Linked DNA regions of Homo sapiens. The protein of the gene in region 3 purifies or fractionates together with the protein of the main gene of each other region. This does not show direct contact. Each region holds a gene or a part of one and is shown on either strand. Other genes may lie near its edges.

What was found.
Region 1: the proteins of CPOX (region 3) and MAP7 fractionate together in Homo sapiens (co-fractionation; one large-scale study listed by BioGRID). This does not show direct contact.
Region 2: the proteins of CPOX (region 3) and NUDT9 fractionate together in Homo sapiens (co-fractionation; one large-scale study listed by BioGRID). This does not show direct contact.
Region 4: the proteins of CPOX (region 3) and TRNT1 fractionate together in Homo sapiens (co-fractionation; one large-scale study listed by BioGRID). This does not show direct contact.

What each region holds. Positions count from the first base shown.
Region 1 is NC_000006.12:136,358,423-136,361,922, reverse strand, and holds part of MAP7 (ensconsin), read left to right. Parts: intron 1-743; coding exon 744-918; coding exon of another isoform or gene 919-987; intron 988-1,124; coding exon 1,125-1,226; intron 1,227-1,891; coding exon 1,892-1,942; intron 1,943-2,045; coding exon 2,046-2,103; intron 2,104-3,500. UniProt on the Homo sapiens protein: Microtubule-stabilizing protein that may play an important role during reorganization of microtubules during polarization and differentiation of epithelial cells. Associates with microtubules in a dynamic manner.
Region 2 is NC_000004.12:87,421,195-87,425,372, reverse strand, and holds the start of NUDT9 (ADP-ribose pyrophosphatase, mitochondrial isoform a precursor), read right to left. Parts: upstream 2,801-4,178; 5' UTR 2,468-2,800; coding exon 2,361-2,467; intron 1-2,360.
Region 3 is NC_000003.12:98,578,946-98,581,278, forward strand, and holds the end of CPOX (oxygen-dependent coproporphyrinogen-III oxidase, mitochondrial precursor), read right to left. Parts: intron 1,826-2,333; coding exon 1,738-1,825; 3' UTR 501-1,737; downstream 1-500. UniProt on the Homo sapiens protein: Catalyzes the aerobic oxidative decarboxylation of propionate groups of rings A and B of coproporphyrinogen-III to yield the vinyl groups in protoporphyrinogen-IX and participates to the sixth step in the heme biosynthetic pathway.
Region 4 is NC_000003.12:3,140,440-3,143,939, forward strand, and holds part of TRNT1 (CCA tRNA nucleotidyltransferase 1, mitochondrial), read left to right. Parts: intron 1-70; coding exon 71-209; intron 210-3,500. UniProt on the Homo sapiens protein: Nucleotidyltransferase that catalyzes the addition and repair of the essential 3'-terminal CCA sequence in tRNAs, which is necessary for the attachment of amino acids to the 3' terminus of tRNA molecules, using CTP and ATP as substrates. tRNA 3'-terminal CCA addition is required both for tRNA processing and repair.

The DNA.
Region 1 (3,500 bases), on a different chromosome or scaffold from region 3:
TTTACTTAACACATCTCCAATCTCCAGGTTTCCGTTTTATCTTTGTAATTATCACATTAAGGCTGCATAATAAGGGTTCATGTTTTCTCCTTTCCAGATAAAACTCCTCTCGGAGGGTAGCCAGGTGGGATCTTTACATGCCCCATGATTGCCTGCCAGGCAGTATTCCAGAAACAGTTTGTTTAATTGGTCATCTTCTGGGCCTAATAAGACGAATGTCAATATAATTGTTCTTCAAACGAACACAACTGTACCCTGGGGAAGGATCTCATGCACTCGCTGGACCGCCATCTTGGCCATGCCTTTCCCTTGGCTCCAACAGGGAGCTTACATGGCTGTCTTCCTCCTGTCCTGTGACAGAACACTGTGACCCTTATTTATTTACAAAGATTCCCTTTGGCTGGGGTGCTTCAAATTCATTACTAAGAAGTCACATTATTTGAATTAAACAAGTCAGAGCCTTTAAAAAATAGTTAAATTCCTTCCAAAAAGCCAGCTCTCCCCAAGATATTGGTGGTTACACGTTGCTTCTATTTAGCACGGACAGCAATGCAGCTGGCAAGGCGGGAGGAAGTCTAAGGGTGGCTTCGCGCTTTGTCCCTTAGCAGTGGTGAAGGCATCCAGTGGGGATTTTTCTACTGGACGCCTAAAGGAACCGCCCTACAGAACCACCGACGGAGGCCTCTCTTCAAAGATTTCTCCTCAGGTGTCTTTGGTTTTGGTTTTGTTCTGTCTTTTTCCAGACAAAAGAGAGAGGAATTGGCTCAACGTGTGGCTGAAGAGAGGACGACTCGCCGTGAGGAGGAGTCGCGCAGGCTGGAAGCCGAGCAGGCCCGGGAGAAGGAGGAGCAGCTGCAGCGGCAGGCGGAGGAGCGGGCGCTGCGCGAGCGGGAGGAGGCAGAGCGCGCCCAGAGGCAGGTGCGGCCGCACCCCACCCTGGCCCCGGCCCCAGTCCCGCAGGGAGACGCCCCAGCCCAGCAGAGGAGGGTGCGGACTGGACTGCTGGTGCTCCCGCTTTCCACACCTTCTCCATCCGCCACCTCGCCCCCACCTCTGGGCACCCCCTGGGAGACCCGGGCAGCCCGCCTGTTTGTCAGAGGCAGACGCCGACCTTCTGTTTTCAGAAAGAAGAAGAAGCTCGCGTTCGTGAAGAAGCAGAGAGGGTCCGGCAGGAACGAGAGAAGCATTTCCAGAGAGAAGAGCAAGAGCGCCTGGAGAGAAAGAAGGTAGCTGCGTCTTAGTAGAGAGGCCCGGGACGCGAACTTGCACCTCTAAGACCCAGAGACTAGCCCTGGCCGTCAGAAAACGCGTGTTCTACCCTTGCCACATAAACTAGTAGCCCCCTCAGTGATAACAATCTCCTGCAAAGAAATCTCTCTCGGTGTTTTAGCCGTCACCAAAAAACACTTACTTCCACTTCATGTAGCTTAAGGCAGTTCCAACTTTCTTGAATAACCCCAGTTAAGACAAAGCAGCACTGCTGGGCCGGGTGGCTCATGCCTGTAATCCCAGCACTTTGGGAGGCCACGGCAGGTAGATCACCGAAGTCAGGAGTTCGAGACCAGCCTGGCCAACATGGTGAAACCCTGTCTTTACTAAAAATGTAAAAATTAGCTGGGCGTGGTGGCGGGCGCCTGTAATCCCAGCTACCTGGGAGACTGAGGCAGCTTGCGCCCAGGAGGCAGAGGCTACAGTGAACTGAGAGCTTGCCACACGGCACTCCAGCCTGCGTGACAGGGCAAGACTCCATCTCAAAAAAAAAAAAAAAAGTGCATATTGTATTTTTCCAAAATAACAGACCATTTTAAATAATCTATTTCATCAGTTAAATATGCCAGGCTGGCTTTTTTTCTGTGTCTAATCTTCTTGCTCAATTCTTCCTTTCCTATAGCGACTTGAGGAGATTATGAAAAGAACCAGGAGAACAGAAGCTACAGATAAGGTATTGACATGGCCGTTTTCTAACTACTTTTGTATGCTTTTATCTTTTTCATTTTCACTTGTAACTCTAATTTTTAAAAGTCCTCTTTTTTTCTTCTTCGTAGAAAACCAGTGATCAGAGAAACGGTGATATAGCCAAGGGAGCTCTCACTGGAGGAACAGGTATTTCTGTCAATGAACTCAAACCAATTTATATATAAAATGTTTAAATTGACTCTCCAGGGGTGAAGATATTCAGGAATTGATGGAGGGAAAAAAGATCCAGTGCTTACAGACTCACAGAAGCTTAGGGGTCTGTCATCGAGTCCTTCCTTCCTCTTATGTAAAACTGTCTAGTGTTTCTACCAGTTACTTTTCACGTTTGTTTATACTCTAATGGGTTGCTTGATATTTTAAATCATCTTATGTAATATGTATTTATGCATATATGTATATATACTTATACATATATGTGTATACATATACTTTTAGAAGAATTTCTTTTGAGTTTATAAAACTAAATTTCATTTATCACATACTGTCTGCTCAAGTAGTGTATATTTATATTTCCTCTTAAGAAAGGACTTTAAATTTACACATTGGACAACTTGTATTATAGAAGTTCTCAGAAAAATGATTTAAATGTTATTTATCTTAGATCTGACTTCAAAATAAAGTTAAAAATTTGTTGAAATTCTTATTTTTTTAATTGACAAATAATAGTTGTACATATTCTTGGGGTCCAGAGTGATATTTCCATACATATAATGTACAGTGATCTTGAAATTTCATTAGAGTTACTGATATGCCATCGGCTTTGGAAAGAGATTATTGATTTTTTTTTGGAGATTATAAGTCAAATGTATTTAAAATAAAAGTGAAATTAGCCTTAATACTCAGATTAAATTAATATTAAGTGCCCTTTTTGTATCAGGTACATCTTTCATACATAATTCCTACTGCTGCCTTGTGAAGTGGTTTGCTTTGTCTTTGAGTCAACAAGCATTTTTGAAGCTCTTCTATGTGCCAGGCCGTGTTATAGGGCTGGGATTCAGTGTGAACAAATAGGCAAAGTCCCTCTACCCACAGGGGCACTCAGGTCCAATGACAGGCCAGGCTTACGCAGCTGGGGCCCCGGTCCCCCAGCTCCTGATTCTGCTCCTTCAGTGATCCTTCGTGGTCTTCATGATTGTACATGCAGGTGGTTAGTAGATAGCTCATCATTGTCTTCCTCTTTCCTCATGTGTGATATCAATATGAAAAGAAAAGACCAGAGGTACTGCAGTTTTCTTTTTCTGTTTACAAACAAAAGCAAAGGCTGGAATACCTTTTGCTCAAAGATCAAATCCAACGGTTTATGTGACAGAACATTGCCTATAAACATTAAGGGTTTTCAAATGTAAAGTATTATTGGTATTTTGGGACTTGGTTTTATTTCCATAGAAGCTATTTTGGTTTCTGTATGTCATAATTCCTTTATAGTGGAGTTTTCATGCTCTTTTAAAGATGCTCTAATGTATGTATGTGTATGTTTGGAGAATAGTCTTAATGGTTGTATATTATAACCCCATTGCATTTTT
Region 2 (4,178 bases), on a different chromosome or scaffold from region 3:
ACGGTCTTGCTGTGCCACTCAGGCTGGAATGCAGTGATGCGATCATAGCTTACCACAGCCTCAAACTCAACTCCTGAGCTCAAGCAATCCTACTGATCACTTAGTAGTCTCTGAGCCTACTCTGATCCTACTGATAGTGAGGACTACACATGCATGCCACCAGGCCCAGTTTTTTTTTTTTAGAGACAAGGGTCTTGCTAAGTTGCCTAGACTGGTCTCAAACTCCTGGCCTCACACGATCCTCCTGCCTCAGCCTTCCAAAGCACTGGGATTACAGGTGTTAGCCACTGTGCCTGGCCATAAAATTCTTTTTTTGTTTTTCTTGAGACATTGTATCACTCTGTCACCCAGAATGGAATGCAGTGGCATGATCTCAGCTCACTGCAACCTCCACCTCCCCGGTTCAAGCTATTCTGCCACATTAGTTACCAGGTACTTGGCACATTTGTTAACTGTTGGCTTTTTCTTTCAAGTCAGTACAGTCTCTGGTTCTGGATATACCTGCCTCATGTAGGGTTCCCAGAGTTACAAAAACGAAGAATAACTGTCAAGCAACTTTACACTGTTCTGCTGGCATCTAACAAAAAGAGCATTAGAGATTTCCAGAGAGCACACACGTGTATTCCTTCCTTCCTCAAATCCCACTAAAAGAAGATAAAGATAGATAAAGGGAAATAAAATCCGTACCAGGAGAAGGAATAAATGCCACCAGTGAATGACAGATGGTAACCAACTTCAGGAAAATGAAAAGTTGTTGGAATATTGACCTACAAACCAGAGTAGGACAAAGTAAAATAAGAATATGCACCAAGGCCGGGCGCGGTGGCTCACGCCTGTAATCCCAGCACTTTGGGAGGCCGAGACGGGCGGATCACGAGGTCAAGAGTTCAAGACCAGATCAGCCTAACCAAGATGGTGAAACCCTGTCTCTACTAAAAATACAAAAAAAATTAGCCGGGCGTGCGCGCGCCAGTAATCTCAGCTACTCAAGAGGCTGAGGCAGAAGAATCGCTTGAACCCAGGAGGCGGAAGTTGCAGTGAGCCGAGATCGCGCCACTGCGCTCCAGCCTGGGCGACAGAGCGAAACTCCTTCTCAAAAAAAAAAAAAAAAAAAAAAACGCATTAGGGAGAAATGCTATTCCTACAAGCTGAGCCGAGCTAGAGGTTTCAAGCTTGAAGTCAGTGGGCCCAAGGATCATAAACTGGCAGCGCGACAATAACCATGGAAATCACTCAGTCCTCCTCCCTCCCCAATCTCCAAGCAAAAAGTCCAAAATAGTTATGTTTGTCTCCAAGATAAAATCAAAAGTTTTTTAGAAATGAAGGGGTAGGACCCCTACTGTGAATACTGGTGTTAAGAGTACACAGCAGAAACTTAGGCTTAATAATTTTACAGTTCACACGGAGGAAATAAACAGCTATACTCAGCAGAGAAGTTGCTCCACCACTACTGCAAAGCCTGAAGCAAAAGGCAGGTTCCCAGTCTACCCATCTGGTACCTGCTCACATGCCCTCAACTGAAACCTTCCTATCTAGGCAACCTGGTACAGAGCCAAAAGTCAATTAGCGACCCATGTACTGAAAACAAGACCTATTACTCATATTAATCAAAATATAGACAGATAACCAGTGCCCATCACATGTTCGAGAAAAAGCAACAGAAGGAAACAGGACCAAAAAGACACAGAACAATTGACCAACAGTAAGTAAATTATTTAGGAAATAGATTTTTCTAATTATCATCTTTGTAGATTCAAGACTTTTAATATCTATAAAATAAGAAAAGGCTGCTGCACCTAGGACCCTGTGTTTACTAACTCAAAGAATAAAAACTGGAGAAGGGAAGAACAGAAGGAGGCAGTGTAAGACACCATAAATCCCTAAATTTAACCACAATAGACAAATTATTAAAAAAAAGGAGGTAGATAGTAAATATAATATATTGTCCACCCTGGAAAGGGGACAGGGGGAATAGTGATTTTACTTTTCATTTTACATTTTCAAGTTGTTTTAACTATGTACATGTATTAATACTAATAATAATGTTTTAAGTATTAACCATAAAAAAATGGCACGGGACACCACCACCCCAAACAATTGCTATTTAAACTCTCTCGTGATACTAACAATGATTTACAGAGAATGGCAAATTTCAAAATCAGAAGTCAAGAAGGGTCCCTGCCACTCGTTTTCCTCAAAAGGCAGATAAAATATTTTAGAGCCTTTTTGAAAACTTGTATATGACTATAAAAACCCGAGAGGCAAAGCAAAGCCTACAGAATACGCCAGAAAAAAAAGCTGCTTCCCACCCCCAACTCAAGGTCTAGGGCAAAGGAGCCGGTAGTAGGAGGGTGGAATACCTGAACGCCTGGATGCCGCGGCAGCGCGAGGACCTGATAGTCACAGAGGCCAAGGCCAGAGAGAGAGACACCGCGGCTAAAGCCTTTCCCAGGAGGCGTCCCGCCATGAGCGCCCCGAGGGCGGCTTTGCGATGCTAGGTCGCTCTTAGTTGGTGCCTCCGCCTCCCCACACCCCACAGCTCCGAGTCCCGGCCGCGGGTATCTGATGGGCACTAGGACCTGTCTGCCGTTGGGTTCCCGAACGGGAGTAGCTGTGCCTATCTATAAATCACAGATCAAGAGCCCTCCCACGATAAGAGTCCACCGCTTTCCCCAGTGCATCGAGAAAAATCCAGACCAGCACGTGACGCCGAAGCCTCCAGCGCCAGCTGCCTGGGGAAACCGCGGCCACGAACCTCGTAACTTTCTCTCTGCGTAATGGCGCTTTACGGCCGCGCCGCAAAGCAAAGGTCGTGCGTTGCCGGCTTGGTAGCGCCTTCCTTCTCCGACTTCCCAGACTTCCCAGTCTGCGCAGGCTTACTTGGGGACGCAGGGAACTACCAAGAAAGTGTCAGAGGAAAGGAAAGGTGAAACAGACGAGGAACTGGAACGGGAATAAGTGGGAAAGAAGCCAAGGGGTTTGAGAGAGACTTGCTGCCCTGGGTTTTTGGTTTTTGTTTTTTGAGACAAGAGTCTGGCTCTGTCGCCCAGGCTGCAGTGCAGGGGCGCGATTTCAGCTCATTGCCGCCTCAACCTCCTGGGCTTAAGCGAGTCTCTTGTCTCAGCCCCCGACGTAGCTGGGACTACAGGCACACACCGCCATACCTGGCTAATTTTTGTATGTTTTGTAGCGACAGATTTTTGCCATGTTGCCCAGGCTGGTCTCCAACTCTCAAGCTCAAATAATCCAACTGTTTGGGCCTCCCACAGTGCTGAGGTTACAGGCCTCAGCCAACGCGCCTGGCCCTGCTCTGGTTTTTTTAGGGAGTAAGTTGTTGCGGAAGGACGCAGGTCTTAGCCATATTTTTGAATAATACTTCGTTATGGGAATGAAACCGCCTTTGCAAAATTATGACTGATTTGGGAGGCCGAGGCGGGATCACTTGCAGTCAGGAGTTCAAGACCAGCCTGGCCAACGTGGTGAAACCTCGTCTCTACTAAAAATACAAAAATTAGCTGGGCATGGTGGTAAACGCGCCTGTAGTCCCAGCTGCTCAGGAGGATGAAGCAGGAGAATCGCTTGAACCCGGGAGGTGGAGGTTGCAGTGAGCCAACGTCGCACCACTGCACTCCACCCTGGGCGACAAGAGTGAAACTACGTATCAAAAAAAAAAAGAAAAAACCTCTGCTCCCTGAATGCTCAGGGAGACTGATTTGAGTAATAATAGAACTCCGGTCTCACACAGCTGGCTCTGCATGAATTACTCTTTCTCTATTGCAATTCCCCTGTCTTGATGAATCAGCTCTGTCTAGGAAGCGGGAAAGGTGAACCCCTTGGGCGGTTACAGCAAGAGGAGATAGTCCAGAGACTCAGCCCTCGTATCTTGAAGGGTTTCTTGGTTTTTTGTTTTTGTTTTCTTAACCAAGTTGTCTGCTCCAATTGCTGGATTTCATTCACAAGGCTTTGCTAGGACCAGTTGTGGCCCTTGGAAACTCGTGGAGGAGAAAAGCTGTGAAAATAGGCACACATGCTGGAGGAGGAACAGAGGGCAACACACATAATACTGGATAATAAACTTGAGAGGCAAAAATTAAACAAACCGACAAACAAAGTTGGAAACCCAGACTGTCCAAAGCAGCTTGTAATCAGGCTTACTTCATTTATATTAGCTTATTGAT
Region 3 (2,333 bases):
ATGGCATTAGCATAGCTGAGCCTTGAACAACACAGGTTTGAAGAGTTTTGCTTCTTCGCAGATTTTCTTCCACCTCTGCCACCCTTGAGAGAGCAAGACCTACTCTTCCTCTTACTACTCCCACTAAGCCTACCCAACATGAAAACAATGAGGATGAAGACCTTTACGATGATTCACTTCCACCTAATGAATAGCAAATATATCTTCTTTCTTACGATTTCCTTAATAACATTTTCATTTCTTTAGCTTGTAAGAAGAGTATATAATACATATAACATAAAACATGTGCGAATTGACTATGTTATTGGTCAGGCTACCAGTCAACAGGAGGCTATTAGTGATTAAGTTTTGGGAGAGTCAAAAGTTATACAAGGATTTGAAACTGCATGCAGTAAGGAGGAGTTGGGGCCCCTAGCCCTAATGTTGTTCAAGGATCAACTGTACTAAGAAATATATGCGTTTTCCTATATTATCCTGGCAACAAAAAATATAAATATTTCTTAGTCTTATTTAATAATAAAATTTATTAGCAGATCTCTTGTAAGACAGTTGAAGAATTCATACATTTTCCAGCCCCAAAAAGGCCACACAGAATCACAAACATTCAACGTGTTCCACGATAATGATATGTATGAGATGCTCTTCCTTATAAACTTTATTACGAAGCAAATAAAATAATACATTCATAATATATGAACAAAGAAATCATACATTAAGAATCCTGTTGTGATTTGCTCTTAAGAGCAAAGAGCTGCAGAATCTCTAATATAAAAAAGAGGACATTTTCAATGTGTCCATTTTCCTAAGAAACGTGTGTATGAAATGCCTCCAAGTTTCTCATACTATATATACTTGCTTTAAAGAAGGAAATTATTTCTCATTTCATTTTCCAAATGAGAAACATTGCCTAAATTCATGACATCCCTAGGATTATTCTTAGTCTCAACTTCCACACAGAGATGTCTGAAATAGAAAACTCTTAAGTATCAGAATTCAGGGATATAAGCTTTCACATTCAAAAGTGCAGAGAATCCCAACATTAACAAACAATGGTTCCACAAAAATCAAAATTACAACTTAGACATCTCTAAAATAATAGTAATGTCACTTTAGAGTTTACAAACTACAGAAATAACTGAATTGTAACACATGCAGAGATTATTTCAAGTGCTTCTAAATACCTATTAGAAAAATGTGTATCTATTTGACAATATTATGTTCTCTGGAGAAAGATATATAAGGATTACAGCAGAGACTTCAGTATTGACAAAGTAAAATTTTTACCTTCAAGTTGCATTCTAAAATTACTATGAAGTCTCAACTTCACTGAATTAATGAAAATAAAATATATTCCACGACAGATTTTTGTGGCACAAATGAAAACTTTAAAAAATACATGAAACAAAAACAAGATGAGAGATTTCCTGATACATATAATACTATTTATATTCCCTTATCTCAATACTTGGAAACTCAATGTCCTATTTTGTAAACTAGTCATATAAAATGACACTAGAAGTATAAATGAGGTTTAATCAATTGACTCTGACAATCTGCCATCTCACCATTCATCACTGACAGCATCCAAAACATGTTATCATCTGCCCACGAGGTAGGGTGCAGAGTGGAGAAGACTAAGGCACGGGTAACTGCCACACAGTGGCAAAGTGCCGACCAGTGGCATGGGGAGCACACATCGTGTGCCCTCCAAACCCCTGCACAGCCATTCTGCCTGCATCAACGCACCCAGTCCCTTGGATGGCGTAGAACTTCCAGAATTTCAGCTTCTTTGGAATTCTCTGAGGGTGAATGCATGTACTCCCATCTATGCATGTCCAAAACAAAAGCAAAAAACGTCATAAAAAATGACACACATACCTCTTTACTTAAAATAAATGAAAAATAAAATCCTAAGAATAAAAAAAAAAAAAGCCTTATACTTCTTTGTCTCTACTGTGCCTGATGTGCCTTGTACCAACTTGACCTTTAAAAAAACTATTTGCCAAACAAATAGTTTCTTAACAACTCTTGGGTATGCTTTGGCTAGTATTAATATCCCAGAGCCAAAATACACCTTTAATATAAACCAGGGTTTCATATAGTGTAGAAACTCAGGTGATCCATGGGCAAACCTTCTTTAGCTTAATACTTATGCATACCTCTTCTCAGAAAAACAAATAGGCAGAGAAGGTCCATCTCACCTCCTAGCCACCATGACTCAGCCTGTGTTCTCTCTCCCTCTAGTCTCTCCTTGCCCTCATAGAGCTGTGGGATTCACCATGTCACCGCTTAAAATACCCAATTTGATTTGCCTTATTTGACTGTGATTTTCT
Region 4 (3,500 bases), about 95 Mb from region 3:
ATTTTTTTCAATTCAGTAGTATGAAAACCTAATTTAAATGACAACAAAAACCCCATGTATTTAATTGCAGCTTCATGAAGAAAATTTTGAGATTACTACACTACGGATTGATGTCACCACTGATGGAAGACATGCTGAGGTAGAATTTACAACTGACTGGCAGAAAGATGCGGAACGCAGAGATCTCACTATAAATTCTATGTTTTTAGGTAATATTTGCAGATAAAACCATATTGTGAGTCTATCAGAATGCCTTCTTTTCAAGTAAAACCTACATTCTGGAAATGTTCTTCAACTTGAGAAGTTGCATTAATTTCTTCTAAGAGATGGTTTAGCAGATTGCTTCAAAGAATAGTCCCTCAGCCGGGCACGGTGGGTCACGCCTGTAATCCCAGCACTTTGGGAGGCCAAGGCAGGCGGATCATGGGGTCAGGAGATCGAGACCATCCTGGCTAACACGGTGAAACCCCATCTCTACTAAAAATATAAAAAATTAGCCGGGCGTGGTGGCGGCTGCCTGTAGTCCCAGCTGTTAGGCAGGAGAATGGTGTGAACCCGGGAGGCGGAGCTTGCAGTGAGCTGAGATTGTGCCACTGCACTCCAGTCTGGGCAACAGAGCGAGACTCCATCTCAAAAAAAAAGAATAGACTCTGGAGCCAAAATCCCTGGGTTCAAATTCTGACTCCGTCACTCACTAGCCACAAAACAAAAACGTTAATTAATATTGGCTTCCTTTGTACCGCTGTTGTGAGGTTTAAGAGAGTTAATTGTAAATGCTTAGAACAGTGCCTGACACATGTACACACTCAGTCAGTGCTAACTTCTTAACTGCATATAAACATGATTTCAGGGAAGAGAAGTGCACACACACATGGTACATGTACATACTCCACACACATCTACACACACACACACCCAGGATCATTCTTTTTCCTTTGCACTATCTTTCATGCATGTTTATTCAATCTTTCTTCTGCTTCCCTGGCAAACAATGGTGAATGACTTCAGCACTTTTTACTGCTGAGCCTACACACAACCTCAGATTCTTTTTTAGCATTGTATTCTAGGAATCATCAATAATCAGAGTTGGTATGTAAGATGAAACCTATTTATTTCAGCTTAACTTTTTTGTTTAATGAAAGCACTGGGAATTATATGGGGGCTAGATACGAATTAGGTTAGTGTTTTGATACATTACTGATGCATCATATGTTGTACTTTAAAGTTAAGACAAGCCCTTTATGTTTAAGATTTTGGATTAAAAAAGGATGAAACATCCACTGTTCATAACCTAGTTTGTAGCAATAGTAGTGGTAAAAGGATGAAGTAATAGGATTTGCTTCATGCATAGATGGGCAAGAAGTTTATAAGCTAAGGTGGCATCTCTTGCTGATTACAGTAATGACAGATACAATTTCTAGGGTACCTACTGGGTTCTAGGTACAACATTGGGTACCTGATATACTTTATTTCATTAAACTCTCAGAAAAACTTCATAAAGTATGTTAAGCCCACTTGATAGAAGAGGAAACTTGAGACTGAGAGATATTAAGTAACTTAGTTTAAGTCACAGAGAACCATGATTTTGGCTTGTTTCCAAGGCCTAGGCAATATATGACCATAGAGAGCCCAATTGGTGCATTTTTCTCTCAGTTAATGTAGTCAGAGCTCCAGGTATTTATTTATTCTCATATTTACTCATAGAGGAAGCTGCTCCAAATAGTGCAATATAGAGTCTTGTCTAACTGGCTTCTCATAAGCATACTGAAAGAGAGAAACTAATACTCTTTTTCAGTGTCCTAGTTTATAAAATAAAAGTTGTTCCTATTGGTACTATCATTTTCTGACATTTACTGAACCCTTATAACATGTCAGGCACTGTTCTGAGCACATTATGTAAATTTAATCTCCTGACAACCCTGCGAAGCAGATACTGCTATTTAACCGATGGTAACTTGCCCAAAGTTGCACAGCTTGTAAAGTGTAGGATCAGAATTCCAACTCAGGCAGCCTGACTCCAGAGGTCACATTCTTAACCACTACATTATTCCCTGCAACTCAACCATATTTCATATTTTTATTTACTGTATTTTAAAAGGATGATATTCAGAGCAAAACAAAATACACACCAGTATGATGCTTACTAAGCTTTGTGTAGTTTTCTATCCTGGCTTTTTCCAAGCCTTATTGGATCAAGCATTCATAGTTCTGGCATTTATGGTTGGTTACTTTGCTTCCCAAACGCTTATTTTTGCTTTGATCATATTCCTATGATTTTTTCCTCCAAATTTTGATCTTGCCTTTAGGTTCCCCAGGGACGGTTACAAGTCTCTTCATTAGGAGAAATAACACCAAGATGGATATACCATATTATTTGCTACTTTGTGATCATATTTTTGCCTATTTACATATTTTCTTTTTATCATTTTCTTTTATGTCTTTTTGAATCTGGAGCCTTCGAAATTTGCCATGTATGTCAAGATGGTTCCCTTTTAAAAGTTACTATGCATATAAAACTATTAACAGCTTGGAAAGAGTTAAGCATTAAGTGTGAACTTACCAATGTACTGTTGCTTTTGGGATAATCAGAGAACATTCAAGTTCAAACACAGCCAAGAGGTATTTTTGATAAGTAGTTGTCAGTGCCTCTTTTCTGTAATGCTACAGAGTGAAGTATCTCATAGATCACTGACCTCCCCATTTGGTGAGCTGAATGGTGTCTGTGTTTCGGCTCTAAATTCCTTTTTCTATTTTTTTAAGTCTCCATGGTAACCAACTGTCTTAGTTTGCCTGAGCTTGAAATACTTCCTTGGATGTATGATTTTCAACTTTAAAACTAGGAATGTCTCAGGCAAACCAGTATGAAGTGGTCACTCTACTAATTAATACTTGAGGTTTTATGTACATATATATAAAATTAGTTTTATGTCACTTTTTTCATTCAACATATGAGAACATTTGTTTATTACCATTTTTGTGAATGGCTAATAGATTAACATGGTTCAAAATTCACAAAGTTTTAAAGGCTCTACAGTGAAGTCTCCTGATCTGTAATGAACAGGACTGCCCATTTAACCACACCCTTGCTAACACTGTTATCAAGTGTTTGCATCGTTGCCGATCTGAAAGACGCTATCTTGGAAATGGGTATTTACTGGCCGGGCATGGTGGCTTATGCCTGTAACCCTAGCACTTTGGGAGGCTGAGGCATGCAGATCACTTGATGTCAGGAGTTCGAGACCAGCCTGGCCCACTTGCCGAAACCCTGTCTCTACTAAAAATACAAAAATTAGCTGTGTGTAGTGGCAGGTCTACTTGGGAGGCTGAAGCAGGAGAATCACCTGAACCTGGGAGGCTGCAGTGAGCTGAGATTGCACCACTGCACTCCAACCAGGGTGACAAAGTGAGAATCCGCCTCAAAGAACAAAAAAAGGATTTATGACTAAGGTTGAAAATCTTCATTATTAAAGAGATTTCTATATTTCCTTTATAGGTAGCCT